Homo sapiens: one gene and its partners. The protein of the gene in region 4 interacts with the protein of the main gene of each other region in a biochemical or structural test. Each region holds a gene or a part of one and is shown on either strand. Other genes may lie near its edges.

What was found.
Region 1: the proteins of UBE2K (region 4) and RNF167 form a complex in vitro, tested with the Homo sapiens proteins (one study listed by BioGRID).
Region 2: the proteins of UBE2K (region 4) and TRIM13 form a complex in vitro, tested with the Homo sapiens proteins (one study listed by BioGRID).
Region 3: the proteins of UBE2K (region 4) and RNF111 form a complex in vitro, tested with the Homo sapiens proteins (one study listed by BioGRID).

What each region holds. Positions count from the first base shown.
Region 1 is NC_000017.11:4,935,509-4,943,290, forward strand, and holds the start of RNF167 (E3 ubiquitin-protein ligase RNF167 isoform a precursor), read left to right. Parts: upstream 1-4,759; 5' UTR 4,760-4,852; exon of another isoform or gene 4,853-4,978; 5' UTR 4,979-5,401; coding exon 5,402-5,485; intron 5,486-5,568; coding exon 5,569-5,649; intron 5,650-6,832; coding exon 6,833-6,958; intron 6,959-7,068; coding exon 7,069-7,156; intron 7,157-7,342; coding exon 7,343-7,433; intron 7,434-7,670; coding exon 7,671-7,776; intron 7,777-7,782. Other genes in the region: SLC25A11 (mitochondrial 2-oxoglutarate/malate carrier protein), read right to left, coding at 2,233-2,388, 2,515-2,566, 2,646-2,745, 2,831-2,921, 3,004-3,094, 3,261-3,467, 3,552-3,704, 4,308-4,402.
Region 2 is NC_000013.11:50,007,026-50,014,048, reverse strand, and holds part of TRIM13 (E3 ubiquitin-protein ligase TRIM13), read right to left. Parts: intron 2,115-7,023; coding exon of another isoform or gene 2,109-2,114; coding exon 885-2,108; 3' UTR 1-884. UniProt on the Homo sapiens protein: Endoplasmic reticulum (ER) membrane anchored E3 ligase involved in the retrotranslocation and turnover of membrane and secretory proteins from the ER through a set of processes named ER-associated degradation (ERAD).
Region 3 is NC_000015.10:58,990,648-58,997,670, reverse strand, and holds part of RNF111 (E3 ubiquitin-protein ligase Arkadia), read right to left. Parts: intron 6,756-7,023; exon of another isoform or gene 6,723-6,755; intron 1-6,722. UniProt on the Homo sapiens protein: E3 ubiquitin-protein ligase. Required for mesoderm patterning during embryonic development. Acts as an enhancer of the transcriptional responses of the SMAD2/SMAD3 effectors, which are activated downstream of BMP.
Region 4 is NC_000004.12:39,701,114-39,708,136, forward strand, and holds part of UBE2K (ubiquitin-conjugating enzyme E2 K), read left to right. Parts: intron 1-7,023. UniProt on the Homo sapiens protein: Accepts ubiquitin from the E1 complex and catalyzes its covalent attachment to other proteins. In vitro, in the presence or in the absence of BRCA1-BARD1 E3 ubiquitin-protein ligase complex, catalyzes the synthesis of 'Lys-48'-linked polyubiquitin chains.

The DNA of each region.
Region 1 (7,782 bases), on a different chromosome or scaffold from region 4:
GGTGGCTGAGGAGGGAGGATCACCTGAGCCTGGGAGATGGAGGCTGCAGTGAGCCCTGAAGGTGCCACTGTACTCCAGCCTGGGTGACAGAGTGAGAGCCTGTCTCAAAACAACTTGGCTTCTTTTGGTGAAGAGTGGCTGGGGCACCTGTCATGAGAATTCACAAGGCTCCAAATGCCCTACCCTGGTCACAACTACTTATCCAATAGACCTCCAGTTACAGCCTACACTTCCCCTGCCTGGGGTGCCTCCTCTCCTCCAGGGCTGGCCACCCACCAGGCCACCCCAGGCATCAGATCCAGCTCAAAAATTGCCTTCCTGGAGTTTAATGACAACTGCTGGGACCTACCTGGCAGCAGCCTGCAGTACTAGGGGCAAAGGTGGGTGCCTGCTTTGCACCTGCAGCCTCAGAAGTGCAGCTCTCCTCACTGCCCAGGTCAGCAGGACAGCAAGGGGTGGACCCTGCAGCATGCACCATCTTGGTGTGACTGAATAGTCTTGGGTTTCCTGCTCTCAGGCTGGGACACAGGCAAATGGAACCCCATTTCTTTTCTCATAAATCCTGCCATTCTCTAAACACACTGGTGTGGCTTCCTCTCCTGCCTTGTCTCCAGCCCAATCCAAGGCTTGGGGCCCAGAGAATGGGACTATGGAGACCCCCATCCCCCTCCAGATGGTCCTGAAGATCTCCCAAACCTGAAAGTCTGACCGAATCTCTCCCCAGGTGGAGGACCAACTCCTGAGCTTGGCAGTCAGGGAGTGCCAAGCACTGACCCCATCTGACAGTCCAGCTTCATCTCAAGGGAGATACCTCACAGTCTGTGCTCCAACTATCACAAGCCTATAGATCACCTGCTCCCCAACAGTGTTTTACTCTAAGCCTTTGCCCTCAGTCCAGCCAGGTGTGCTATCCTTGCCCCATCCCCAGCCAGTCTAACCACTCAGTCTGCAAGTCACTACTCCCAGGCGAGGCCAGGTGCTCCAAGTTACCCTGCAACACTATTGCTACACTCAGTTTCCCAACTGCTCCTGTATAATCTTGTCTTCTGGACCAGGAACTCCTTAAGGACAAGGTCTAGGCTTCAGGCATCTCACAATAGCCACCAAGGCGCAGGACAGTGTACACAGAGGCAGCAGCAGGGGCGCCAGGATGCTGAGCTCCACCTCTTCTGCTGATGAGGCTCTGCCAAAGGGACAGCTCCCACCTGCTGCCTGCCTGTCCCCTAGCCTGGCAAGCACTCCTCAGTTTGACCTTCCCAAACTCTCTTGTGCCCCAAGAGGTTTTAAGGCTCCTTGAAGGCTGGCCTGGGAACCACACATCTTCTAAAGAAATGGACAAGGTTCTCACTCTCCCCAGCCAAGGACCCAGATCAGGTCTCTGGCCAGCATTCCCCTTTCCTCAAGCTTCCAGTGCCCACCCACTTAAGCCCTGGCCTTCCACCTGCACTGCCTCCAGCCCACAGTGGTCTGACTTCCTCTCTAAGTCTCTTTATTTCCTCCCTCTTTAGGCTGCAGAAGCAGTCATCAGACCGAGGGGCTTTTCCTGGGGATTATGTGAGATGATCTGGGCATCGGTGGCATTCTTGGGCGAGTGGCTGGAGGAAACACACCGGGCCTGGGATTTGAGTTTTTCTGGCCCTGTCAGCTGCTGTGGCATGACAGATTTATACAGCATTTGCAAAAAACCAGCGGCTGCTTTTTCTTTAACAATTTTTCTTAAAAACTCCAGTTCCTATTCTCCAGCTTCTTTGTCCAGTCTCCTCCCCTCTCCTAGCCACCCCCCAGACTCTCCAGATTTGGGGCTGGTGTCATCAATCCAATTTATTAAGTCCTCAATGAGGGGGAGGAAGGGCCACATCTCCCTCTGCAGGCCCTTTGACCATCTTGATGGCTTCTGCTCCTCCCTGTCCCCTCAGCTCTGCCTTGGTTTCCCCACTGACAAAGGGGATCTTCTGCTGTCCTGTGTGCCCTGAAACTAAAACCCAGGGGGAGGCCAGAAATCCTCAGAAGTTTTCCAGCTCCCTGCAAGAATAGCCAAGGACAGAGAAATCACAGGATCAGGACGAGCAGGGCAAGCTGGAGCAGGGGGTAGAACAGACCAAGTCCTTTACCGCAGAGGAAGAAACCACACTGTGGAAGGGAAATAAATAGAGGGGTCCAGGGCAGCAGAGCCCAGGCCCCCAGGGCGCAGTGGCTATAGGCGCAGCAGGCGAGTGGGAGCCCCCGGCCGCTTCAGCCACTGAGGAAGAGACGCTTGTAGGCCTTGTTCATCTGCTCCAAGAAGATGAAGGTGAGGACGGTGTGGGGGCCCAGGCGGGCATAGTACGGCGTGAAGCCCTTCCACAGGCTGAAGAAGCCCTCGTAGCGGACAACTTTGAACAGCACGTCCTAGACACAGACAGGCAGGGCGCTGGGGCTAGGACTCTAGGTCCCCATCCCCCTCACCCAGCTGCCTTCACACCTTTCCCAGGGGATCCGACACCCCCTCCCAGGCCCCCAGAATGGCTTCCTCACCAGCCCGTTCTTGTATTCCGGCTTCCCATCAATCATCCGCATGTTCTGGATTCTGCAGGAGAGGACGCAGGGGCATGAGAGACCGAAAGGGCACCCTCCCACCCACCTCCAGGCCCAGGCTGCACACTCACCGGGTCTTGGCAATGTCCACAGGCATGGAGGCAGCAGTGGTGACAAGACCGCTGATCATGCTGGCACAGAAGTGGCACAAGATGTTGTCAGAGAAGTAGCCTGGGGGAGGTGAGGCGGGGGTGGCAGTCAGCTCAGAGGTGGCTCAGGCCAGGCTGGGAACTAAGGGCCCAGCTCTGGATCTCACCTGAGTCCAGTAAGAACTGCTTGGATTGGGAGTAGGAGGCGAGCTGGGCAGCATTGACGACGACGGCCCGAGCCATGGTAGGGATGCAGCCCTGGAGGGAGGGGAGCGGGGAAGAGTCAGAAACCCCTAAAACCAGACCTCACAGCCCCCAAGTCTCCAGCCCCTCCACTCACCCGCCACAGTGTGAGGACACCCTCTTCCCGGGTGATTCGAATCAGGGCGTTAAACACATTTTTGTAGCCACGGCGCTGGTCAGCTGGAAGCCTGGTGGGAAGGCAGAAAGAGGTCAAGATCAGGATTGCCCACAGGTGCAAAGAAAGGAAGGCCAGAACAGGTAAACACTCTGCTCCAGATCCGGGATAAAAAACTGGTCCTTTCATTCTAGATTCGAGGGAATGGGGCTGGGGTTAGGTTCAGACTTGGAACTCACCGGCCATCGGCAGTCATGCGGATAAGAGCCACTTCGGCTGGTGTTCCCACAAAGGCACCAGTGGCACCTGCGGTCATGCCAATCACAGCCTTCAGCAGAAAGCCAGGGGGAGTACCATCAGCCCCAGTCAGGCGCTCAAACAGCACGGTATAGATGCCAAGGCGGGTAGTGGTGTAGGTGGCCTGACGCAGCAGGCCAGCCGACAGCCTGAGGAGCAGAGGGGTCAGCATATCAGGCCAAGGTCTAGAGCTGCCAACCCACAGTCTACCCTCCATCCTGAGGCCCCAATACCCAGTGTAAATGCCCCTCAGGCCTTCTGCCTTCAGGATACTGGTGAGGGCATGGAAGCTGGTTTTGTACTCTCGAGTCTTGGCCCCTTCCCCGCTCAACTGCATCCGGTTCTTCACCAGGTCCAGGGGCTGGACAAAAACTGTAGCTCCCATCCTGGGGGAAGACAGAGGTGGAGTGAAGGGCCAGGCATTCCAGATCTACCAGTGCCCACTGGAGCCTGGCAGCAAGAGGTTACAAAGGTCAGGGCCTGCCATGCGATTCAAGAATCAGGATGCTGGTGAGCATGTGTATAAGAGTCTATATGTACACCAAGTGCAACGGGTCTGAAAAGTCTAGTTGTCCAGTAGGGGCCATGCAATGAAAGTGCTCCAAGCAGCTTCATGACAGTCAAGCAGTGACCTGGGGCTGCACGCAGTCCGACACAGGGAGGGGAGGAAGGGGCATCCAAGATTTAGGACTCCAGGTAGTCCTGCAGGAGCCATTTAATGGCCTGGAACCCCCTGCCGCCCGGCCGAGCTTAGCAATGCGCTGGGAAACTCAGCTGGCCCGGCGGGGGTTGTGCAACGACCCTGCATGCAGTCCATAAGGGTCCTGCAATGGGGCCCTAGCAGCCCATCGGGGAACTCGCAATACGCTGGAGATCGCGCTGACCCCGTGCCGGCACAGTTCACTGCAACAGACCCAGAGATGAACCGGGCCCGGTTCCTTTTGCCCTTCCCTTCCTCCTCTTTTCCCATCCCTGGGGCCTGAGCTTACCCGGCCAGGCCCCCAAACAGGAACTTGACGGACTTAGGGGAGGTACGGGGCTTCCCGTCTATCCCGCCGGCCCCGGCACTCGCCGTCGCCGCCATCGCCACTCAATGGCCCTCGGCTCCGGGTCCCGTGCGCGCGCGGCCCCGCTCGCGCCCAAGGTGACACCGCGCGCGCAACAGAGCGAGGGCGCGCGCACGCCCCTCCAGCTCTCAGGTCCGACACCCGCTGGAAGCCGGCGCGGGCGCAGGCGCGCAGCGCAAAGGCGGCCGGGAGTAAGGCGGAGCTGAAGGAGGAGCTTGATGGAAGCGTGCGAGAAGGGGCGTAACTGATTTGGAAACCAGAGGAAAGGCGCTGTTTTCACCGAATTAGAATCGCGGGAAAATAGAGAAGAGTTTGTTTGAAGGTCTCGCGAGATCGAGTGAGTACGGCTCGCCAAGTTGGAGCGCTCTCGCGATAGACACAGCAACTATTCAGCTGCGAGGGGACGGGAGAGGTGGTGAGCACTCTCGCGAGATTTGAAGGAGCGGCGGAGGCCAGAGGGAGGAGAGGTTTGTAAACTAGGAGGCTCCGGGTTTCCGGGCACTTTTATTAGGTCGTCTTCTGGGCCACCAGTGCCCCTTCCATCTCCACAGGCAGTCCCTCCATCGCTAACCTTTTTTTAACCGGCCTTTTAGGACCGGAAGTCCTTCATCTCAAGCATCCAATGCTGAAAGCGGCCTGATTTTCTCTACCGGAAGCCCTTTTCCAGAGGCTGGGAACACGGCCCACCTAGCAGGAAGTCCCACCTCCTTGAGCTCCGCCACCCTTCCCGAAGTTTTTCTGTCACCTGTGTTAGGCTCCGTCCCCTTTCCGCGTTTTATCCCCGTACCAGAAAAGGATACATTTAGTGCCTCCCACCCAGCTCCACTAAACGGGTTGGATATCTCATTCTTTGAGTTGGTGTTCCTTCCCCGGCGCCCCCATGTAGCTGGGAAGTGGGACCTGGGGGTGGTTGGACCCCTGGGATCCTAAAGGAGGGGCAGGGAGGGCGCAGAACTCCGCTTCTGCTCCTTGCTACCAGGACGCGCGGCCTCCTCAGCCTCTTTCCTCCCGCTGCCATGCACCCTGCAGCCTTCCCGCTTCCTGTGGTTGTGGCCGCTGTGCTGTGGGGAGCGGCCCCGACCCGGGGGCTCATTCGAGCGGTGAGTCTGAGGGACGGATGGGGAAAGGGCGCTGAAAGGAAGGGTTGCAGGCTGAAGGGGAACATCGCCTTTTTTGTCCGCAGACCTCGGACCACAATGCCAGCATGGACTTTGCAGACCTTCCAGCTCTGTTTGGGGCTACCTTGAGCCAGGAGGGCCTCCAGGTGATTTTCTTTCTTTTCTTTTCCTCCTTCCCTCCCTTCCTTCCTTTTCTGTCTTTTTTCTTTTTTTAGTATTTCGCAAGATCCTCCATCCTAGGCTGGGGTTGGGGAGGTTTGTCCTGGGTGAAACTGGAGGTAGGAAAATGAAGTTAGGAACTGAGCACGTCTAGTGTAGAACCCAGAATCTAGAGGGAGAAGACAGAGTGTCCACCCCTGGAACTCCGAGGTTATCAGGGAGACTGAAAGTGGACGAAGACAGAAGGCAGGATCAACGGTCCTTATCAGGAAGGTCTCAGGTGCTAGTTATTGCTTATATGACTTTGGGCAAGTTAATCTCTCTGAGCCTTAGTTTGTTTTACTGTAAAATGGGATATTAGAAGTTTTCCTAGGGTTATTGTGAAGATCAAAGTAGATACGCAATTTTGGTAGTATTTCATCCCAAAGACTGCCACATAGCAAGAACTCAGTTGGGCCTTAGTAGCAGTCGAGTTGTTTGTGAGATGGGTAATTAGAAAATTGAAGAGGCCGGGCGCGGTGGCTCACATCTGTAATCCCAGTTCAAGACCAGCCTGGCCAACATGGAGAAACCCTATCTCTACTAAAATGGCAAAAATTAGCTGGGCGTGATGGTGCACGCATGTAGTCCCAACTACTTGGGAGGCTGAGGCAGGAGAATCACTTGAAACCGGAAGGTGGAGGTTGCAGTGAGCCGAGATCGCGCCACTGCACTCCAGCCTGGGTGACAAAACGAGACTCCATCTCAAAAAAAAGAAAAACAAAAAGAAAACTGAAGGGAGGGGAGTGTGTCTGTATGAGTATGTGCTGGAGAGGGGACTGTGAAACAGAACTTGAGAGAAAGTGACATGGGTGGTTTGAGAATTGAATTACAATTGGAATATTAGAAGGCAAAAATAATTGCATTAGCTTGCAGTATAGGGTACAGATTAGCCCATCTGGGACAGCGAGAGGGATGATGGGAGAGTTTGGTGAAGGGATGTTTTATGTCATTGCCTTTTCAAGAGGCTAAGAGAAGGTTGTGATGGTGGGATGCTCACTCAGACCCCAGGAAGGAGGAGGAAGTGAGGATAGAGGATGTGCAGCATGTGGGCTGGTGTGTTTGGTGGCCCCTGTAGAGAGCAGAATCTAGAAAGGAGAAATCTCACTGTTGTTTGCTTCCATCCTTCAGGGGTTCCTTGTGGAGGCTCACCCAGACAATGCCTGCAGCCCCATTGCCCCACCACCCCCAGCCCCGGTCAATGGGTCAGTCTTTATTGCGCTGCTTCGAAGATTCGACTGCAACTTTGACCTCAAGGTTGCTGAATGAGGAAGGGGAGCTGGGCAGCTGAGGGTAAAAAAAAGGCACCAGGAATGAAGACAGGTAAGGCCCATGATGGCTCCTTGTCCTCTGCCTTGTCTCCCTAGGTCCTAAATGCCCAGAAGGCTGGATATGGTGCCGCTGTAGTACACAATGTGAATTCCAATGAACTTCTGAACATGGTGTGGAATAGTGGTAAGGCTGGGGGAATCTATACAGCTGGGCTTTCAGTAGGACCCAGAGATGGTGGGAAGGCTGAAGGCCTCAGGAAAAGAAGCCAATCCTTTAGGTGGGGTGGGGCCAAAGTGCAAGATGCCAGGGTTCCCAGAGGATTTGAGTAGAAGGTTGTGAGTCCCCAGAGTAACACCTTGATCCCTGCAGAGGAAATCCAGCAGCAGATCTGGATCCCGTCTGTATTTATTGGGGAGAGAAGCTCCGAGTACCTGCGTGCCCTCTTTGTCTACGAGAAGGGGTAGGACATGTGCCTCCTTCCCATTCTTCCTTCAGCAAGCAGTTCCATGCCAACCTGGAGCCCAGGCCTCCTCATTACCCGAACCATTCAGCCTCCTGTCCTTCCTTCCCTGCCTCTTTGACTTTCTTCCCATTCCTGTCCCCACCTATGGGCTTTGTCCAGAGCCAGTTACTTTGTCCCTCTTTTTTTCTCCCTTTGCCTTTCTCGCCCTGCTGAGACTGGTCATCCTTTTCCCAGGGCTCGGGTGCTTCTGGTTCCAGACAATACCTTCCCCTTGGGCTATTACCTCATCCCTTTCACAGGGATTGTGGGACTGCTGGTTTTGGCCATGGGAGCAGTAATGGTGAGT
Region 2 (7,023 bases), on a different chromosome or scaffold from region 4:
CTTATCACAAGAAAATGCCAGGTTTTGTATGTACCATTCACATTTTGGTGATAATTAACTCTCTGTAGAAAATTTTGGAAATCTAATTAATTAGTACCTTCAATACCTTTAGTTGTCTCCCACACACGCGTGTGTGTGTGAAATCTTCTACAATATCTTCCCTTTTTTAGACCATGTTCACTGTCAAAAAGGTGCTTTAAGAGCAGTCTTTGGCTGGGCACGGTGGCTCACACCTGTAATCCCAGCACTTTGGGAGGCCGAGGCAGGCGGATCACGAGGTCAGGAGATCAAGACCATCTTGGCTAACAGGATGGTCTTAAGGGACAGTGAAACCCTGTCTCAACTAAAAATACAAAAAATTAGCTGGGCGTGGTGGCACGCGCCTGTAATCCCAGCTACTCAGGAGGCTAAGGCAGGATAATCACTTGAACCTGGGAGGTAGAGGCTGCAGTGAGCCAAGATTGCATCACTGCACTCCAGCCTGGGCGACAGAGCAAGACTCCATCTCAAAAAAAAAAAAAAAAAAAAAAGTGATCTTTACTGCATGCTTGAAGAACAATCACTACTATACTACCTATACTTCCATCAATACAATATTAGATCATATGATCTCTCACCTATTTTTATCACAGCATAAATACAACCAACATTTGGGGTGGATGCTTATTTCAAAAGCACTCTTTTAAACAAAAAAAGGTTCAGGCCTATACTACTAAATTTCACTTTTATCTTTATGCTACCTAATTTGAACATGTATAGATTATTTTTGGAAGGAATACTTTTGGAGGAAAATATGTGACTAGAATCGTTGACCAAATCTGAATTACCACTCTCTATTCTCTAACAATTTCTAACAAAAGAAAACTGCATACTTGAAACAGATTTTATAATAGTTTATATTTGCACACAAATTCTGCCACATTGTTCAGTACCACCAAAGTAAAATTCTTGAATCTTTCATTGAAAATGAAAAACCCATCTGTCACCTGTTCCCAGTAAAAAACTGATTGTTCTATGAAATCGGCTGTTTTAGTCAGATAGGAACTGAAGTTTGAAAGACAGCCTTTCCAAGTTGCCAGGTCATCAAATAATGACCATTCTAGGAACATGGTAGGACCAAAGACAATGACAAGGCCAAGCAGAAGGATTAGCAAAAATAACTTATAAAAGCTCCAGGGAATCTTGCTAATGAATGTGCCAGTGTCTTGAGGCAAAGAAAGTTTATCCACATCGACTAGTTTTATGTCTTCCCACTGACTGGTATCAAAGTTCTTCATTAAAGGGCTTGCAGGCAAATTAGAGGGAGGTAAAGGAGTTTCCTTGATTACTTTGATTTTCTCTCTAAACTCCTGCATCTGTTGCAGAAATACAATGGGTTCTGACACATCTTTGAAAGCCTCAGCAATGTTAAAGGCCATCCGTTGCTCCTGCAAGATGGTGTTGAGTTTGTTGATCTCTGGGTCATATGCTTGCATAACAGCAAGTTTCATGGTCTCAAAGTCAGACAGAATTTCATTCTTCTTTTGATCCAGTGTGTGTTGTAACTTCTCAAAAAATTCCTTCACTTTATCTGAATCTTTAGTCAGTAACTGTAGGGATTTCCTCTTACTAGTTTCCAAGGTATCCAAGCGAGAAAGAGCATCTCCCCGACGCCAGGTCTCAAAGCTCTGGAAGAGGGACTCAAAGGCATCCCTTTCCTGAGCATAGGCATCTTCAATAGAACAGAAGACATGTTTGGTGTGCTCCCCACGAGTAGCACAGATCCCACAAATCAGCTGCATATCAGTCAGGCAGAAAATGTTGAGAGGCTGCCCCAAGTGTCCTTTGCATACTGGCATTTTGGGAGAGATCTTGATCTTGTTATACTTTTCCACAATACCCTTCAGGGAGTAATTAACCTGCAGGCTATTAATTCCAGTAGCTGAAGTTTCCTTACGGCATGTAGGACACTTGAATGGAGCTGGTCTCCACAAGGAATTCCGCACACTCCCTTCTAAGATACCTTCTAAGCATTTTTTGCAGAAGTTGTGGGAGCAAGGCAAAACCCGTGGATCATCAAACAGACTACAACAAATAGGGCATGTGAGATCTTCTTCAAGCAGCTCCATCACATCCTACCAGAAAAAAAAAAAATTATTTTACTCCAATAACCGTCACCACTAGGACTATGTAATAATTAGAAGAAATCTGCCTTCACGTTAAAATGATTTTTCACTGAAATAACCAGCCAAACAAAGTAGTGAGAAATTTGGTAAGGGAATGCACACCAAAGCAAATTTAATCCACTGAGACTAGAACATGCTCCTTTAATAGTAGGGCATCCTATACACAAGGCCTTTGTGTGGGCTTTCCAACAACAGTCTTTGGCTAAGACAAGACTCAGGACTAGGACAACTGCAAGTTGAGCCAGCAGGACCCAAGCAATTGTTTTAAAACAGAGCTGACTACTGACAAAAACAAGGCTATTCAGTGTCTGTAACAGAATGAGCTCTTTACTCTGGGCCCACAAATATGAAATGGTATGTTATATAAAAGAAAGAAGCACAGAAATATAAATCCAAACATGTACTCTCATGTAGACTTTATTATGAATTGGCATATTTTTGTTTCAAAGGCAAGATTACAATTTTTAAAATCACAGGTAAAAGCACAAGATGAGAGTTGCAATTCACTCTTCTAGGTAGAGAACTAAATGAGGTTTTTTGTTGTTTTTAAACCACCAGAACAGTAACAGAAGCCATTTTGTATTATCTAGAATCATCAATTTTCACAATGTGGTGGGCAGAAACCTGGATGTCCCTCTTTCAGGGCATCTGTGAGATCAAAACTATTTTCGTAATGACACTAAGATGTTACTTGCTTTTTGCACCATGTCAACATTTGTACCAATGGTGTAAAAGCAATGGTGTGTAGACACTGCTGAAGCCTTAGGAGGGATCGAGCAAAGCTGTAAGAAGCGCTGAATTGTATTCTTCATCACCACCCAAATTGGGGTTGGAGTACCGGTTTCACTTAAGAATGTTCTTGATGCAGCAGTAAAAATTATTCATTTTATTAAGTCTTGAGCCTGTGTACAGTTTTTTAATATATTGCGTGACAAAATAGGCAGTACGCACAAAGCACTTCTGCATACCGGCAGATGTTGTCTGGAGAAAAAGCACTTAAGTGAAGAGCGGCAAGTTAAACCAGCTGCTTTTTTTCATGGAACACCATTTTTACCTTCTGAAAGAACAAATGATAAACTATGGCTATTCAGACTTAGCTACCTGACATTTTCTGGGGAAAAAAAATGAGCTTGCTACTTCAAAGAAAACAATTGACAGTATCTCTTGCTAATGAAAAGGCTGGGTTTTATGTAAAAATTAGAATTTTGGAAAACATTTGATATTTATGAGCCTGACAGCTTCCCATTAATTAAAGACTTTTATGATGAGATGGGCAGTGATATTAATGAATGTGAGGATTTTCTGAGGGGAAAGGAGTACTGTATAATGAAATGTGTCAATATTTGGAGATCTGCAAAACACAGTGAATACTATTTCAAGTCACTAATGCATGTTACAAATCAGGCATGGGTAAAAGATCCATTTGAAGTTCACGAAAGACCAACAGGTTCATAAACAATTTCAGATTCCATACTCCAACAAAGAAACTAGCACTTGCTGAGTTTTTGTATAGTATCACAAGAAGATTCAGGCTGGGAGCAGTGGCTCACGCCTGTAATCCTAACACTCTGGAAGGCTGCAGAGAGTGGACCGCTTGACCTCAGGAGTTCACGACCAGTACGGGCAACATAGCAAAACTCCACCTCTACAAAAAAAATACCAAAAAAATTAGCCAGCCATGGTGGCATGCGCCTGTAGTCCCAACTACTCGGGAGGCTGAGGTATGAGAATCCCTTGAGCCCAGGAGGCAGAGGCTGCAGTGAGCCGAGATAGCACCACTGCACTCCAGCCTGGGCAACAGAGAGAGACCTTGCCTCAGGAAAAAAAAAAAAAAAAAAAAAAAGATTAAATTACCTGAAAAGGCTATTTAAATAATATTCCTTCCTTTACCAACTACATATCTGTGTAAGCCTAGATTTTTGTGTATTTCCTTTTCTTTTCTTTTTTTCTTAAGAGATGGGGTGTCTCACTCTGTCACCCAAGCTGGAGTGCACTGGCATGATCATAGCTCACTGCAGCCTTGAAATACTGGGCTCAAGTGAGATCCTCCCAAGTAACTACAGACTGCAGGTGTGCACCACCATGCCTTGCTAATTTTTAGTTTTAGTGTTTTTTGTTGTTGTTGTTTTTTTTTTTTTTTTTTTTTTGAGACGGAGTCTGACTCTGTCACCCAGGCTGGAGTGCAGTGGTGCTATCTTGGCTCACTGCAACCTCCACCTCCCGAGTTCAAGTGATTCTCCTGCCTCAGCCTCCCAAGTAGCTGGGCCTACAGGCACATACCACCACACGCAGGTAATTTTTGTATTTTTAGTAGAAACGGGGTTTCACCACGTTGGCCAGGCTGGTCTTGAACTCCTGACCTCAGGTGATCCATCCGCCTCAGCCTCCCAAAGTGCTGGGATTACAGGCGTGAGCCACCGCGCCTGGCCGTGGATTTTTTTATAGACAGGGTCTCACTATGTTGCCCAGGCAGGTCTAGAAATCCAGCCCTCAGGCAATCGTCCCACCTCCACCTCCCAAAGTGCTGGAATTACAGGCATGAGCCACCACACCCAGCCTTCTTCGTTTATTTCAACCAAAATAATATATTCCAACAGGTTAAATACAGAAGCAGACAAAAGACTCCAGCTGTCTTCTATTAAATAGCCATTCATTACAGGCCTCTATTGCAATGCCATGCTTCTCTTAATTTTGTTTTGGAAAATAGTTATTTTCCTAAATTATTTGTTAACTTGTAATGGGTTTATCATTGTTATTTTACGTGAGTATTTTTTAAAAATTGTTTTAATTTCTAATAGAGTAAATATCGACAGTACAAACATAAAGTTCTTGGGATTCTCTTTTTTTTTTTTTTTTTTTTTTTGAGACAGCTTTTTCACCCAGGCTGGAGTACAGCAGTGCAATCTCAGTCCCCTGCAACTTCTGCCTCTTGGACTCAAGCCATCCTCCTGCCTCAACCTCCAAGTAGCTGGGACTACAGGCACGCACCATCACACTCAGCTAATTTTTTTTTTCTTTGTAGTTTTTTTTTGTAGAGATGAGGTCTCACCATATTGCCTAGGCTAGTCTCAAATTGCTGGGCTCAAGTGATCCTCCCACCTCAGACTGCCAAAACACTGAGATTACAGGCCAGGATTCTCAATTTTTAAGAGTGTAAAAGTGTCCTAAGACCAAAATATTTGAGATCCCTAATACAGGCAATACCATTTCTCAATGCAGGTTTATTATTTTTAATTCTTATTTTGAGAGACAGGGTCTTGCTCTGTTGTCCAGGCTGGACTACAGTGGCCTAATTATAGCTTACTGCAGCCTCAAACTTCTGGGCTCAAGCAATCCTCCTGCCTCAGATTCCTAAGTAGCTAAGACTACAGGCATGCACCACCACGCCTGGCTACTTTTTTTTTTGTAGAGACCAGGTCTTACTAGCTGGCCTCAAGCAATCCTCCTGCCTCAGCCTCGCAAAGCACTGAGATCACAGGTGTGAGCCACTGCATCAGGCCACAAGTTTATTTTAAATATACATTCATCTCTATAGTTGTAAAACCAAAGAGTACTACATATTTCTACATTCAGTTTACTCAGGGATATATGCACATATCACATTATCAACAATATCACATTATCAACAATAACATATGACTTAATCGGTAGGCCATCTATGATAAAAAGTGAATACTTGGCCGGGCACGGGTGGCTCATGCCTGTAATCCCAGCACTTTGGGAGGCCGAGGCAGGCGGATCACGAGGTCAGGAGATCAAGACCATCCTGGCTAACACAGTAAAACCCCGTCTCTACTAAAAATACAAAAAAATTAGCTGGGCGTGGTGGCAGGCACCTGTAGTTCCAGCTACTTGGGAGGCTGAGGCAGGAGAATGGTGTGACCCCAGGAGGCAGAGCTTGCAGTTAGCCGAGACAGCGCCACTGCACTCCAGCCTGGGCAACACAGCAATACTCTGTCTCAAAAAAAAAAAAGCGAATACTTTTTTAACAGTAATTTCAACAGCCATACATGACTGGACTATATCTAGAAGGTAAACAGTATTTAAAGGACAAGCTGAGCTTGCAGGGTTAATTAGTTTATGGCTTTTTTTTTTTTTTTTGAGACTAAGTCTCACTCTTGTCACCCAGGCTGGAGTGCAATGGTGTGATCTTGGCTCACTGCAACCTCCGCCTCCCGGGTTCAAGCAATTCTCCTGCCTCAGCCTCCAGAGTAGCTGGGATTTACAGGCACCTGCCACCACGCCCAGCTAATTTTTGTATTTTTAGTAGAAACGGGGTTTCACCATGTTGGCCAAGCTGGTCTCAAACTCCTGACCCCAGGCAATCCACCCGCCTCCCAAACTGCTGGGATTACAGGGGTGAGCCACCGTGCCTGGCGTTTTTTTTTTTTTTTTGAGACAGAGTCTCACTGTTGCCCAGGCTGGGGTGCAGTGGTGCAATCTCGGCTCACTGCAATCTCTGCTGCCCAGGTTCAAGCAATTCTCCTGCCTCAGCCTCCCGAGTAGCTGGGATTACAGGCACCGGCCACCACGCCCGGCTAATTTTGTTGTATTTTTAATAGACACGGGGTTTCACCATCTTGGACAGGCTGGTCTTGAACTCCTGACCTCATGATCCACCTGCCTCAGCCTCCCAAAGTGCTGGGATTATAGGCGTGAGCCACCACGCTGGGCCCTATTTTTTTGGGTTTTTTTTTTTTTGAGACAGAGTCTCACTTCGTCACCCAGGCTGGAGTGCAGTGGCACAATCTCGGCTCACTGCAACCTCTGCCTCCCGGGTTCAAGCGGTTCCTCTGCCTCAGCCTCCTGAGTAGCTGGGAACTACAGGCGCCCACCACCATGCCCAGCTAACTTTTGT
Region 3 (7,023 bases), on a different chromosome or scaffold from region 4:
CTAATTTTGTATTTTTAGTAGAGATGGAGTTTCCCCATGTTGCCCAGGATGGTCTCGATCTCTTGACCTCGTGATGTGGCCACCTCAGCCTCCCAAAGTGCTGGGATTACAGGCGTGAGACACCATACCCAGCCCTGATTTTTTTTTTTTTTTTAACTGCAAATGTGTAGTCATGAAGAACATAGTGATTACTAATGCAGTTTGGCCACTGTCTTGATTTGTGCTACAGGGCCATTAGTTTAATGCACCACTGTTTTTTGCACCATCAGTGCAAATGTCAACTGGTGTTCACATCAGTTACATAGAAAATGAGAACTTGGTAATATTCTGAAATAGTTTCAACCTGGTAGACCTCCTGAACACTTGGAAGAGCTACCTCAAGAGTCAACAGACCACACTCTGAGAACCACTACTCTGGATGCACATATAAAATACAGGAGGAAAGAGATACATCTTCAGAGAAAAGACTTGGGTCATAGGAAGATAAGAATGGCAAGGAGCCTTGTTTTTTTTCCCTGTACATTCTTTGTACCTTATAAATTTGGTACACTTTGTATATATTACTTTTCTCTGAAAAAATTAACTTAAAAAAAGACACTTAAACTGACATGAAAACTAAGTAAAAATTAAGCATATTAGTAGAAATATAAGTACACAAGTAAATACAAACAAATATAAGCATACTACTTATAAATATAAAGGTATAGACTACAGAAATAATTTTTGAGAGCTAAAATGTTTCTGTTTAAGCAGTACAACTAGGAGATTAGGAGAGTTGCATAGGAAACCACTGTTTTTCATTGTAAGTCTTTTGAAACTGACTTTTAAAACCGTGTACAGATATTAATTGGTTGAAAATTTAAAATATTCAAAATATTACTTTGAAAAAACACACATTAAGTTAGATTGAATAAGTAAATAAAGCAAATATCCATACACAGGTGAGAAACTGGCTATGAAATATACCAAGATGTAACAGTAACTGCCTGGGTAAAAAAAAAAAAAAAAAAAAAAAAAAAAAGAAAGTACTGATGAGTTTTCAATCACATACAAAAATTCTGTTTCATAATTTTTTAATTTTTTTTTTCTTGAGATGGAGTCTTGCTCTACTGCCCAGGCTGGAGTACAGTGGCATGATCTCGGCTCACTGCAACCTCCACCTCCCAGGTTCAAGCGATTCTCCTGCTCCAGCCACCCAAGTAGCTGGGATTACAGGCATGCACCACCCCACTTGGCTACTTTTTTTTTTTTGCATTTTTCAGTTGAGACAGGGTTTCATCAGGTTGGCCAGGATGATCTTGAACTCCTGGCCTCAAGGGATCCATATGCCTCGGCCTCCCGAAGTGCTGGGATTATAGGTATGAGCTACCGCACCCAGCCCAATTTTTTGAACTCATTTTAAAGTTTCTTAAAAAGCAACAGTTTTCTTCAGATTAGAATGTTTGATGACTTAGTTAAAAATAGTTAAAAGTATAAACTTCAGGTTTTTAATAAACAGTTAAGTGGCTAAACATACACACACAATTTTTTCTCATTTCATATGATCACAATTAAGAACATAACTCATTATGTATTTGAAAAAGAAAAGAAGAAAAAAATTGCTTTATGACAATAAGTTGCTGAGTCTTACGTGATTACTTCATAAAATCTTCAAAGAAATATAAACCTACTATCAAAAATCTAATTTAAATTTAGTTTCCTAGCGATGTCCTGATGCATGAAAAAAAGATTATTCCTGTATATAAATAACACAACAGCAAATTGGATTGCTCACTAAAAGGAACCAGGGTTCCATGGAAAACGGCTCATTCCAAGACTGACAAAGGAAAGAAATAAGATGTGCTTGCAACATCTTGCTGTGCCAGAAAGACAGGAAATACTTAAAAAAAAAAAAAAAAAAAAAAAAGGCCGGGGCACGGCATCTCATGCCTGTAATCCCAGCACTTTGGGAGGCTGAGGCAGGTGGATCACGAGGTCACAAGGTCAGGAGTTCAAGACCAGCCTGTCCAAGATGGTGAAACCCCGTCTCTACTAAAAATACAAAAATTAGCCGGGCATGGTGGCAGGCGCCTATAATCCCAGCTATTTGGGAGGCTGAGGCAGAGAATTGCTTGAACCCGGGAGGCAGAGGTTGCAGTGAGCCAAGATCGCGCCACTGCACTCCAGCCTGGGAGACAAGAGTGAGACTCCGTCAAAAAAAAAAAACAAGAGGTTATGTTAAAAAGACACAGGAGCCCACTTGGAAAGGCTCCTAATGGACAAATCTGGGACAATTTGAACATCAAAATAAAGGTTATAATGGGTTATTTAACCCACTGAATAAAACAGGAAACACACAATTCTGTATTAATCAGATAAAAGAATGTCTCTTCCTTATAAAAGAATGTCCATTAGTGAAGAAAATGGATGAGTTACAAAATAAACACTTTCCAACCATTAGAGTAAAGATCAGTAAAGATCAGCATAGGCAAGAAACATCAATGGATGCTACATGGGCCTTGGGGGATGTGGGGAGTGATGAGGAACAGGATGATCTGATGAGGAGCAGAGTAGCTGCACTATCTCAAAGTTATCCCCACAGATTGCTTATTAGGTGCACTGTTCCACATTACAGGAGACTAAAGAGATATGACAACTAAATGCATTTTGTGATCCTGAACTGGGTCCTATGAGGAAAATGCTGTAAAGGGATAAATGCTATTATCAGGACAATTCGACAAAACTGGAAAATGAGCTGTAGATTAATATTATCAAAGTTTAATTTTCTGAATTTTGTAACTGGTGCAGTGATAACGCAAAAGAATACAATACACAGTGAATATTTAGAAACAAATGGGCATAATGCAATGTAATGGGCATAATGTAAGCAATTTACTTTTAAATGATTCAAGAGAGAATAAGGGGCCAGGCGCAAAGGCTCACCCCAGCACTTTGGGAGGCTGAAGTAGGCTGATCACTTAAAGTCATGGGTTTGAGACCAGCCTGGCCAAGAGGGTGAAACCTCGTCTCTAACTAAAATACAAAAATTAGCTGGACGTGGTGGCGGGCACCTATAATCTCAGCTACTCAGGAGGCTGAGGTAGGAGAATCGCTTGAACCTGGGAGATGGAGGTTACAGTGAGCCGAGATCACACTGCTGCACTCCAGCCTGGGCAACACAGCGAGACTCCACCTCAAAAAAAAAAAAAAAAAAAAAAGAGAGAGAAAATAAGAAAGCAAGAGTGACAACATTAAAAATTGGTGAATCTGAATAATGAGTATTCAAGAGTTCTCAGTACTATTTTTTAAATCTTTCGGTAAGTTTGAAATTATGTCAAAATAAAAATGTAAGTAGCCAGGCGTGGTGGCTCACGCCTGTAATCCCAGCACTTTGGGAGGCCAAGGCGGGAGGATTACTTGAGGTCAGGAGTTCGAGACCAGCCTGGCCAACATAGCGAAACCCCATCTCTACCAAAAATATAAAAAATAACCTGAGCGTGGTAGCGTGCACCTCTAATCCCAGCTACCTGGGAGGGTGAGTCAGGAAAATCACTTGAAGCTGGAAGGTGGAGGTGACAATGAGCCAAGATGGGGCCACTGCACTCCAGCCTGGGCCACAGAGTGAGACTCCATTAAAAAAAAAAAAAAAAAAAAAAAATTTAAGTAACAACAAATTGGGATGTCAAAAGATAGTAAAATAAGTAATTTATTCGAGTGCCCTATAGTACATATGAATAAGGGAAATGACTACAACATTGATTCAGACTTGACACCTAGCCATATATAGAATTTCTTAAATTTTCTATTTGGTAGAAAAGGAAAAATATTTTTTAAGAATCCAATCACATACAAACTAAACTAAGATGCTAATCGTGTATGCCCTCAGGAAAACACAAAAATCTTCTCCATGTTAACACAATCCACACTGCCAAACTCTCCTTTCCACCAGCAAGCCATAAGCCCCTTCAGGCAGGTGTTAAGAGCCTGCCCTTTGTTTTAACTCAAGCACTGGCACAGTGCCTGAAATACAACACTCCTGTTTGTTGAATAAATACTGAACATTTACAAATAGAAACGAAATACTGTATTTTTATCAAAATGAAAAGAAGCGTGGAAGGGAACAGACACTTAAATATGGTACTTTCACAAATTTTGAGATGGAGTCTCACTCTGTTACTCAGGTTGGAGTGCAGTGGTGCAATCTCAGCTCACTGCAACCTCCACCTCCTGGGTTCAAGCAATTCTCCTGTCTCAGCCTCCCAAGCAGCTGGGATTACAGGCACCCACCACCACGCCCAGCTAATTTTTGTATTTACAGTTATATTTTTTTTATTTTTGTGTTTTTAGTAGAGACAAGGTTTCACCATGTTGGCCAGGCTGGTCTCGAACTCCTGATGTCAGGTGATCCACTCGCCTTGGCCTCCCAAAGTTCTGGGATTACAGGTGTGAGCCACTATACCTGGCCACTTTTACTAATTATTTTAAAACATTTTTATTTACAATTGAACATTTTCTTTTTTTTGAGATGGAATCTTGCTCTGTCACCCAGACTGAAGGGCAGTGGCGCAATCTTGGCTCACTGCAACCTCTGCCTCCTGGGTTCAAGTCATTCTCCTGCCTCAACCTCCCAAGTAGCTGGGATTACAAGCACCCGCCACCATGCCCGGCTACTTTTTGTATTTTTTAGTAGAGACAGGGTTTTGCCACGTTGGGCAGGCTGGTCTCAAACTCCTGACCTCAGGTGATCCGCCTGCCTCAGCCTCCCAAAGTGCTAGGATTACTACAGGTGTGCACCACCATGTCCAGCCTAAACATGAATGAACGTTTTCAAAAATATATTATTTTATTTTATTTCATTTACTTATTTATTTTGAGATAGGGTCTGGCTTTGTCACCGAGGCTGGAATGCAGTGGCACAATCTCGGCTCATTGCAACCTCTGCCTCCCGGGCTCAAGCCATCCTCTCACCTCAGCCTCCCGAGTAGCTGGGACTACAGGCATGTGCCATTATGCCTGTCTAATTTTTGTATTTTTTTGGTACAGCCAGAATTTCGTCACATTGCCCAGCCTAGTCTCAAACTCCTGGGCTCAAGCAATCCACCTTCCTCAGCCTCCCAAGGTGCTATGATTACAGGCATGAGCCACTGGGCCCAGCCAAAAAAATATATTTTAAAATATGAACAATTTTCAAACCTCACAAAAGCAGAGAACAATATTATTAATACCCATGTACCCATCACCCCAACCCAACAATTATCCAGATTGTGCCAGACCTGCTTCATCTATCTTATCTCCCTCCACCACATTTTTTGGTTTTTATCTGGTATCTGTTTAAAATAACAGACATTGCTGGGCACGGTGGCCCACGTCTGTAATCCCAGCACTTTGGGAGGCCGAGACGGGCGAATCACCTGAGATCACGAGTTCAAGACCAGCCTGGCTAACATGGTGAAAAACCGTTTCTACTAAAAATACAAAAAGTTAGCAGGCGTGGTGGCGCGCTCCTGTAATCCCAGCTACTCAGGAGACTGACGCAGAAGAATTGCTTGAACCCGGGAGGTGGAGGCTTCAGTGAGCTGAGATCACACCACTGCACTCCAGCTTGGGCAACGAGGGAAACTCCATCTCAAAATAAAATAAAATAAAATAAAATACCAGACATTTGCAAGTTTTCTCCCTCATTCCTCAGTCTCTATCACTAATAAAAAGTGGTCATTTTCTTACATAAACATAATGCCATTATCATCCCTAACAAAGTTACAATAACTCCTTGATATCATCTAATACCCATCCATATTCAGATTTCCCCCAATGTTTCAAAAATGACTTTCTACAATTGGTTTGAGTCAGGGTTTAAACAACACCAACATATTGTATTTGGTTACTACACATAAAATAATTTTAATCTGTCTACATCATCTGACAGCAAATATGAAAAGCTTAACAGACAAACCAAATAATTAATTTACATTTGTAGATTCTCTAGAATCAAACCTCACCTAATGCATTTGCCGCCCCTGCTATCTGTAGCAGTCTTCCTCCAAATCGTCACTATGGCTGATTTTTTCTAGTCATTGAAGTCACAGGTCAAATTACCACCTCTAAAAAGGCCCTCCCTAACCACTCAATCTACAGTAAAACCACTTCCATCCATGCCGTATCACATGGTCCTATTTTCCTCATGGCACTTACCACTACCTGAAACCATTCTGTTTATTATGTTCCCACACACAGAACAGAATGTCAGCTCCATGAAGGCAGAGTGCCTTCACTGAAGACCAGTGACTGTGCCTAGAACATGAGACATTCAATAAATGTATCTACGTAATAATGCAGTACCGCTCTTTAAAATGTAAGCTCAGCTAAGTATTTGGAGGCTTTTTTGTTGTTTTGTTTTTTTTCAAGATGGAGTCTTGCTCTGTCACCCAGGCTGGAGTGCAGATCTCAGCTCAGTGGAACCTCCACCTCCCGGGTTCAAGCAATTCTGCCTTACCCTCTTGAGCAGCCAGGATTACAGGCGCATGCCACCACCATGCCCAGCTAATTTTTGTATTTTTTTTTTAGTACAGACGGGGTTTCACCATGTTGGCCTGGCTGCTCTCGAACCCGACCTCATGATCTACCCGCCTCGGCTTCCCAAAGTGCTGGGATTACAGGTATGAGCAAGCGCACCCAGCCTCAGCTAAGTATTTGTCTTTAAATATTTGTAATTCACTCCTCATGTAATGATATAAATTGAGTACCTGTAGAAACCTGGGCCAGCTGTTACCAAGAATCTGTAGGATGTAGGAAAGAAACAAACAGAGGTATAAGACATTCAAATGTAATTGTGGACTTTTACTGAACAATAATTACAGGTTTCTGAAAGAAAAACAAATTATTCCAGATGATTTTTAAAATGTTACCAGGAGTAATAAAAAATTTCATTTTTAGTACCATCTGAAAGCTATTAAAGCTTCAGTAATTAATATCTACAATGGGACAACAATAGCAATAATATGTGGAACAACAATCATAGTTTTTTTGTTTGTTTGTTTTGAGAAA
Region 4 (7,023 bases):
GTGTTTGGAAATTTGTCAGATGTTTCTTTTTATTAATTAATATTTATTTTCTTTGTTTTAGATGTTTGTTTTTAAATATGAGTGTGAATTTTAAGTAGTTTTAAATAATATTCCAAAGTTGTTAGGCATGGAATATTGATGTAAAGTACATTTTATAATTAGTTATTTTATGAGTAGGATTACATAAGTAAATTATTAATTGTGAGGATATAAACCCATAATCAATGTTTTATTCATAAGTTTTATTATTTACTATTAGTTATTGCTGCTGTTAATAACTAGCTGCCATTTGTAGAATGGCTAGTTGTTCTTAGTATCATTTGTTTTTACGTTATTGCTAATTCTTAAGCACAGTTCTTTAGATGTCCTATTTCCTAGATGAGAAAATAGAGATTTAGAGAAGTTAAATTATTTGTCTGCAATCACAGAGCCTGGGATTTGGATCTAGGTCTGCTTGTGTTCATATTGTCCCACGCTGTCATGACTTGCTAAGGATAGGCATGCTTTTAATTAATTTAAAAAATCGAGCCTGGTTTGTATTACTGGTTAAAGGATTTAAACACAGTTTAATTTGCTAGTTTAAACTCATTGAAATAAGTGTTACCTATAATTAACTTTAAGATGTACTTGAATTTCTTTCTTTCATGTTTTTTTTTTTTTCTTTTAAGAAGGAATCTCGCTGTCTCGCCCAGACTGGAGTGCAGTGGTGCGATCTCAGCTCACCACAACCTCTGCCTCCCAGGTTCTAGAGATTCTGCCGCCTTAGCCTCCTGAGTAGCTGGGATTACAGGTGCCCGCCACCACGCCCAGCTAATTTTTGTATTTTTAGTAGAGACGACGTTTCACCATGTTGGCCAGGCTGGTCTTGAACTCCTAACTTCAAGTGATCCGCCTGCCTCAACCTCCCAAAGTGCTGGGGTTACAGGCATGAGCCACCACACCCAGCCAGATTTACTTGAATTTCAATATACCAAATATTTTAAAATTTGAAACTTAATGAAATAAAACACCCTTAAATCAGTGCACTCTCTTGTTGGTCTTATGCTATATGGCACCTGTTGGTTTTTCATGTTGTAATTGCACTTTGGTAACATTTTCTTTTCTTTTCTTTTCTTTTCTTTTTTTTTTTTTTTTTTTTTTTTTTTTTTTTTTTTTTTTGAGACGGAGTTTTGCTTTTGTTGCCCAGGCTGGAGTGCAATGGCGCGATCTTGGCTCACCCCAACCTCCGCCTCCTGGATTCAAGCAATTCTCCTGCCTCGGCCTCCTGAGTAGCTGGGATTATAGGCATGCACCACCATGGCTGGCTAATTTTGTATTTTAAGTAGAGGCGAGGTTTCTCCATGTTGGTCAGGCTGGTCTTGAACTCCCGACCTCAGGTGATCCACCCGCCTCGACTTCCCAAATTGCTGGGATTACAGGAGTGAGCTACTGCACCTGGCCAACATTTTCTAGTCTCATAGGGCGTGTTTAAATCTATGGCATAAACAAATTGGTTTCGTGAAAATTACTATATAGTACATTAAGTTTTCCCTCATCATTTAAATAGATTTTTGTGTCTATTTTCCTTTAAAATTTTAATGTACTTGATCTAGCTTGATCTAGATTATTCTGTAATAGAAGTAGTTGTAAATCTCTAAAAGTAAGTCTTTTGATTTCTGTAGACCATGGATTTTTTAACCTTGGCACTACTGACATTTTGGGCAGATAGTTCTTTGTTGAGTGGCTCTCCTGTGCATTGTGGGATGTTTAGCAACATCCCTGACCTCTACCAGTATATGCAGGTAGCACTGCAGAGCCCCAGCGCATGTCCCCACTATCTCTTCTTGCTGGATGCATCAACTAAAAATGTCCCCAGACTGCCATATGTTGAGAACTATGTAGACAAAACTTTTTTTTTTGATACAGAGTCTTGCTCAGTCACCCAGGCTGGAGTGCAGTGGCACGATCTCAGCTCACTGCAACCTCCACCTCCTGGTTGCAAGCCATTCTGCCTCAGCCTCCCGAGTAGCTTGGATTACAGGCGCCTACTACCATGCCCGGTTAATGTTTTTATTTTTAGTAGAGACGGGGGTTTCACCATGTTGGCCAGGCTGGCCTGACAAAACTCTTTAAAAGAGTGTTTATGGCCAGGTGGGGTGGCTTATGCCTGTAATCTAGCATTTTAGGAGGCTGAGACTCGATTGAGGCCAGGAGTTCAAGACCAGCCTGGGCAACATAGTGAGAGTTTGTTACTACTAACATTTAAAAAAAATCAGCCAGGCCTGGTGGTATGTGCCTATAGTGGCAGCTACTCGGGAGGCCGAGGCTGGAGGATGCTTGAGCCCATGAGGTCAAGGCTGCAGTGAATTGTGATCATGTGACCGCACTTTAGCCTGGGCATCAGCGAGACCCTGTCTCATAAATGAAAAAAGAAAATGATTCCTGGCTATTTATTAACTATATAAGAAGAACACAGCCAGGCGTGGTGGCTCACGCCTGTAATCCCAGCACTTTGGGAGGCCTAGGCAGGTGGATCACGAGGTCAGGAGATCGAGACCATCCTGGCCAACATGATGAAACCCCGTCTCTACTAAAAATACAAAAATTAGCCGGGCATGGTGGTGAGTGCCTGTAGTCCCAGCTACTTGGGAGGCTGAGGCAGGAGAATTGCTTGAACCGGGGAGGTGGAGGTTGCAGTGAGCGAGATGGCACCACTGCACTGCAGCCTGGCGACAGAGCGAGACTCCATCTCAAAAAAAAAAAAAAAAAAAGAATACTTTGAGACTTAACTGTATCAGATGTGTAAGATAATTTATCTAAAGAATAAATGGACACAGACAGTAAAGACAAAAAATATATACTGGCTTTGAATGTTTTATTTTTAAAACTTTTAAGTTTGTTTCCCGTTTTTAGTGTTTTTCTTTTAAAATTTCTCGCTTTTGATTTTAATAAAAAGGTAAAATTTTCTACCAAAAATGAATGTAACGAGAATTTGAACAGTTGTTTCTAAGACTAGAGGCAGGCGTGGTGGCTCACATCGGTAATTGCAGCACTTGGGGAGGCTGAGGCAGGAGAATCGTTTGAGTCTGGGAGGTCGAGGCTGCAGTGAGCGGTGATTGTGCCACTGCACTCCAGCCTGGGTGACAGAGCAACACACTGTCTCCAAATAGTAAAAAAGTGGTTTTTAAAGTTTTTATTTTTATTTTATTTTTTCAAAAGTGTGTTTGAAAGTTATGTAAGTTACAGTTTTATGTAATATTTAAATAGTATTTCTTATGGTTTCTGGAATGGGTTGAGCAAGGAAAGCCTATAGATTGGGTTAAAAAAAATCAAAGTCTGTGCAGGTAATATGTTTGGGGTGAATTCCTTGTATACAGTGTTACAAAGACTTTGAGCTCTGTCCATTGGGCGTAGGTTTAGACACATCTGGGCTCCCTAGCTTCTTCCCTTTTTATTTATTTATTTTTGAAACAGAGTCTCACTGTCACCAAAGCTAGAATGCAGTGGCGTGATCACAGTTCACTGCAGCCTTGAACTCCCCAGGCTTAGATGATCCTCCTACCTCAGCCTTCCAAGTAGCAGGGACTAAAGGCGTCTGCCACCATGCCCAGCTAATTTATGTAATTTTTTGTAGAGACGGGGTTTCACCATGTTGCCCAGGCTGGTCTCGAACTCCTGGACTGAAGTGATCCTCCGGCCTTGGCCACCTGAAGTGCTGGGATTACAGACGTGAGCCACCATGCTTGGCCTGTCACCCCTTCTTAAAGACTATACACCTTTTTTTTTTTTTTTTTTTTTAGACGGAGTCTCCCTCTGTCGCCCAGGCTGGAGTGCAATGCGCCATCTCGGCTCACCGCAACCTCCGCCTCCCGGGTTCAAGCAATTCTCCTGTCTCAGCCTCCTGAGTAGCTGGGATTACAGGCATGTGCCAGCATGCATGGCTAATGTTTTTTTTTGTTTTTTTTTGTTTTTGTTTTTGTATTTTTAGTAGAGACGGGTTTTTACCGTATTGGCCAGGCTGGTCTCGAGCTCCTGACCTTGTGATCTGCCGCCTCGGCCTCCCAAAGTGCTGGGATTGCAGGCATGAGCCACTGCACCTGGGTTTTTTTTTTTTTTTTTTTGGGAGACAGAGTCTTGCTCTGTTGTCCAGGCTGGAGTATGGTGGCACGATCTCAACTCACCACAGCCTCTGCCTCCCGGGTTCAAGCGACTCTCGTGCCTCAGCCTCCTGAGTAGCTGGTATTACAGGCGCACCCCACCACGCCCAGCTAATATTTTGTATTGTTAGTAGAGACAGGGTTTTACCATGTTGGCCAGGCTGGTCTCGAACCCCTGACCTCAAGTGATCCAACTGCCTTGGCCTCCCAAAGTGCTGGGATTACAGGCGTGAGCCACCGTGCCCAGCCAAGACTATATACTCTTATTTCCCGTGAATACATTATTGACAGTTATTGAAAATATTGACTATAGCCCCAAAAGGCTTAACTGGTTAGAGATACAGGGCAGACAAAGGATAGATAAAAATGGTGGGGGCAAAGAGTAAATGCTATGGGATTCTAAAGGGTATCTGCATGAGAGAGATTCCTTTTTGTTGTTGTTTTGTTTTGTTTTTGTGACAGAGTCTCGGCTCTATCACCCAGCCTGGAGTGCAGTGGCTCCATCTCAGCTCACTGCAACCTCCGCCTCCCAGGTTCAACCAATACCTCAGCCTCTGGAATGGCTGGGATCCCGGGATTACAGGCATGCGCCACCACGCCCAGCTAATTTTTTTTTTTGAGACGGAGTCTCGCTTTGTCACCCAGGCTGGAGTGCAGTGGCGCGATCTCAGCTCACTGCAACCTCCGCCTCCCAGGTTCAACCAATACCTCAGCCTCTGGAATGGCTGGGATCCCGGGATTACAGGCATGCGCCACCATGCCCAGCTAATTTTCTTTTTTGAGACGGAGTCTCGCTCTGTCACCTAGGCTGGAGTGCAGTGGCGCTATCTCAGCTCACTGCAAGCTCCGCCTCTCAGGTTCATGCCATTCTCCTGCCTCAGCCTCCTGAGTAGCTGGGACTACAGGCGTCCACGACCACTCCCAGCTAATTTTTTGTATTTTTTTTTTAGTAGAGACGGGGTTTCACCGTGTTAGTCAGGATGGTCTCGATCTCCTGACCTCGTGATCTGCCTGCCTTGGCCTCCCAAAGTGCTGGGATTACAGGTGTGAACCACCCTGTCCGGCCACAATACCCAGCTAATTTTTGTAGTTTTAGTAGAGACAGGGTTTCATTGTATTGGCCAGGCTGGTCTTAAACTCGCGGCCTCAGATGATCTGCCTGCCTGGGCCTCCCAAAGTGCTTGGCTTAAATGGTGAGCCACCATGCCTGGCATGCCTGGACTTTTTTTTTTTTTTTTTCCCAGATGGAATCTCACTGTGTCACCCTGGCTGGAGTCCAGTAGCATGATCCAAGCTCACTGCAGCCACCACCTCCCAGGTCAAGCGGTTCTCCTGCCTCAGCCTACCAAGTAGCTGGGATTACAGGCGCGCCCCACCGCCCAGCCAATTTTTTATATTGTTAGTAGAGACAGGGTTTTATGATGTTGGCCAGGCTGGTCTCCCAAAGTGATAAGATTACAAGTGTGAGCCACAATGCCCAGCCAAGACTATATACTCTTATTTCCCAGTGAATACATTATTAACAGTTACCGAACATGTTGACCACAGCCCCAAAAGGCTTAATTGGTTGGAGATACAGGACAAAGGATAGATAAAAATGGGAGGGGCAAAGTGTAAATGCTATGGGATTCTGAGGGTATTTGAATGAGGGAGGTTCTTTTTTGTTTTTGTTTTGTTTTGAGTCAGAGTCTCTGTCACCCAGCCTGGAGTGCAGTGGCTTTATCTCGGCTCACTGCAGCCTCCGCCTCCTGGCTTCAAGTGATTCTCAGGCCTCAGCCTCCAGAATGGCTGGAATTACAGGCATGCGCCACCACACCCGGCTAATTTTTTTTGTATTTTTAGTAGAGACTGGATTTCACCATGTTGACCAGGCTGGTCTCACACTCCTGACCTCAGGTGATCTGGCTGTCTTGGCCTCCCAAAGTGCTGGGCTTACATGTGTGAGCCACCCCACCTGGAGTTTTTTTGTTTTGTTTTGTTTGAGATGGAATCTCACTCTCTCACCCAGGCTGGAGTGCGGTGACATGATCTTGGCTCACTGCAGCTTCTGCTTCCCAGGTCAGGCAGTTCTCCTGCTTGACCCAGTAGCTGGGATTACAGGCGCATGCCACCATACCCAGCTAATTTTCCTATTTTTAGTAGAGATGGGGTTTCTAGCCAGGCTGGTCTCGAACTTCAGACCTCAGGTGATCCGCCTGCCTTGGCTTCTCAAAGTGCTGGGATTACAGGCATGAGCCGTCGTGCCTGGCCTGTATGACTGTATGAGGGAGGTTCTTGAGCTAGGTGCCTTTTTTTTTTTTTTGAGATGGGGTCTCACTCTGTCGCCCAGGGGCACAATCATAGCTCATTGCAGCCTTGACCTCCTGGGTTCTAGCAGGCCTTCCACCTCAGCCTCCCGAGTAGCTGGGACTACAGGTGTGTGCCACCACACCTGGCTAATTTTTATTTTTTGTAGAGATGGGGTCTCATTGTGTTGCCCAGGTTGGTCTTGAACTCCTGGCTTCAAGCAGTCCTCCTGCCTCAGCCTCCCAAAGTGCTGGGATTATAGGCATGAGCCACCTCACCCAGCCTTCTTGAGCTGAGTTCTAGAGGAAAGTTAAGACTGACCTCAAATTTCAGGAGACAGTCCCAAAGGAATTCTGGTAATATTGCAATTTTTTTTTTCTGAGACAGTTTTGCTCTTGTTGCCCAGGCTGGAGTGCAGTGGCACAATCTCAGCTCATTGCAACCTCTGCCTCCCGGGTTCAAGCGATTCTCCTGCCTCAGTCTCCCGAGAAGCTGGGATTACAGGCATGCACCACCACGCTCAGCTAATTTTGTATTTTTAGTAGAGACCGGGTTTCTCCATGGTGGTCAGTCAGGCTGGTCTCGAACTCCGGGACTCAGG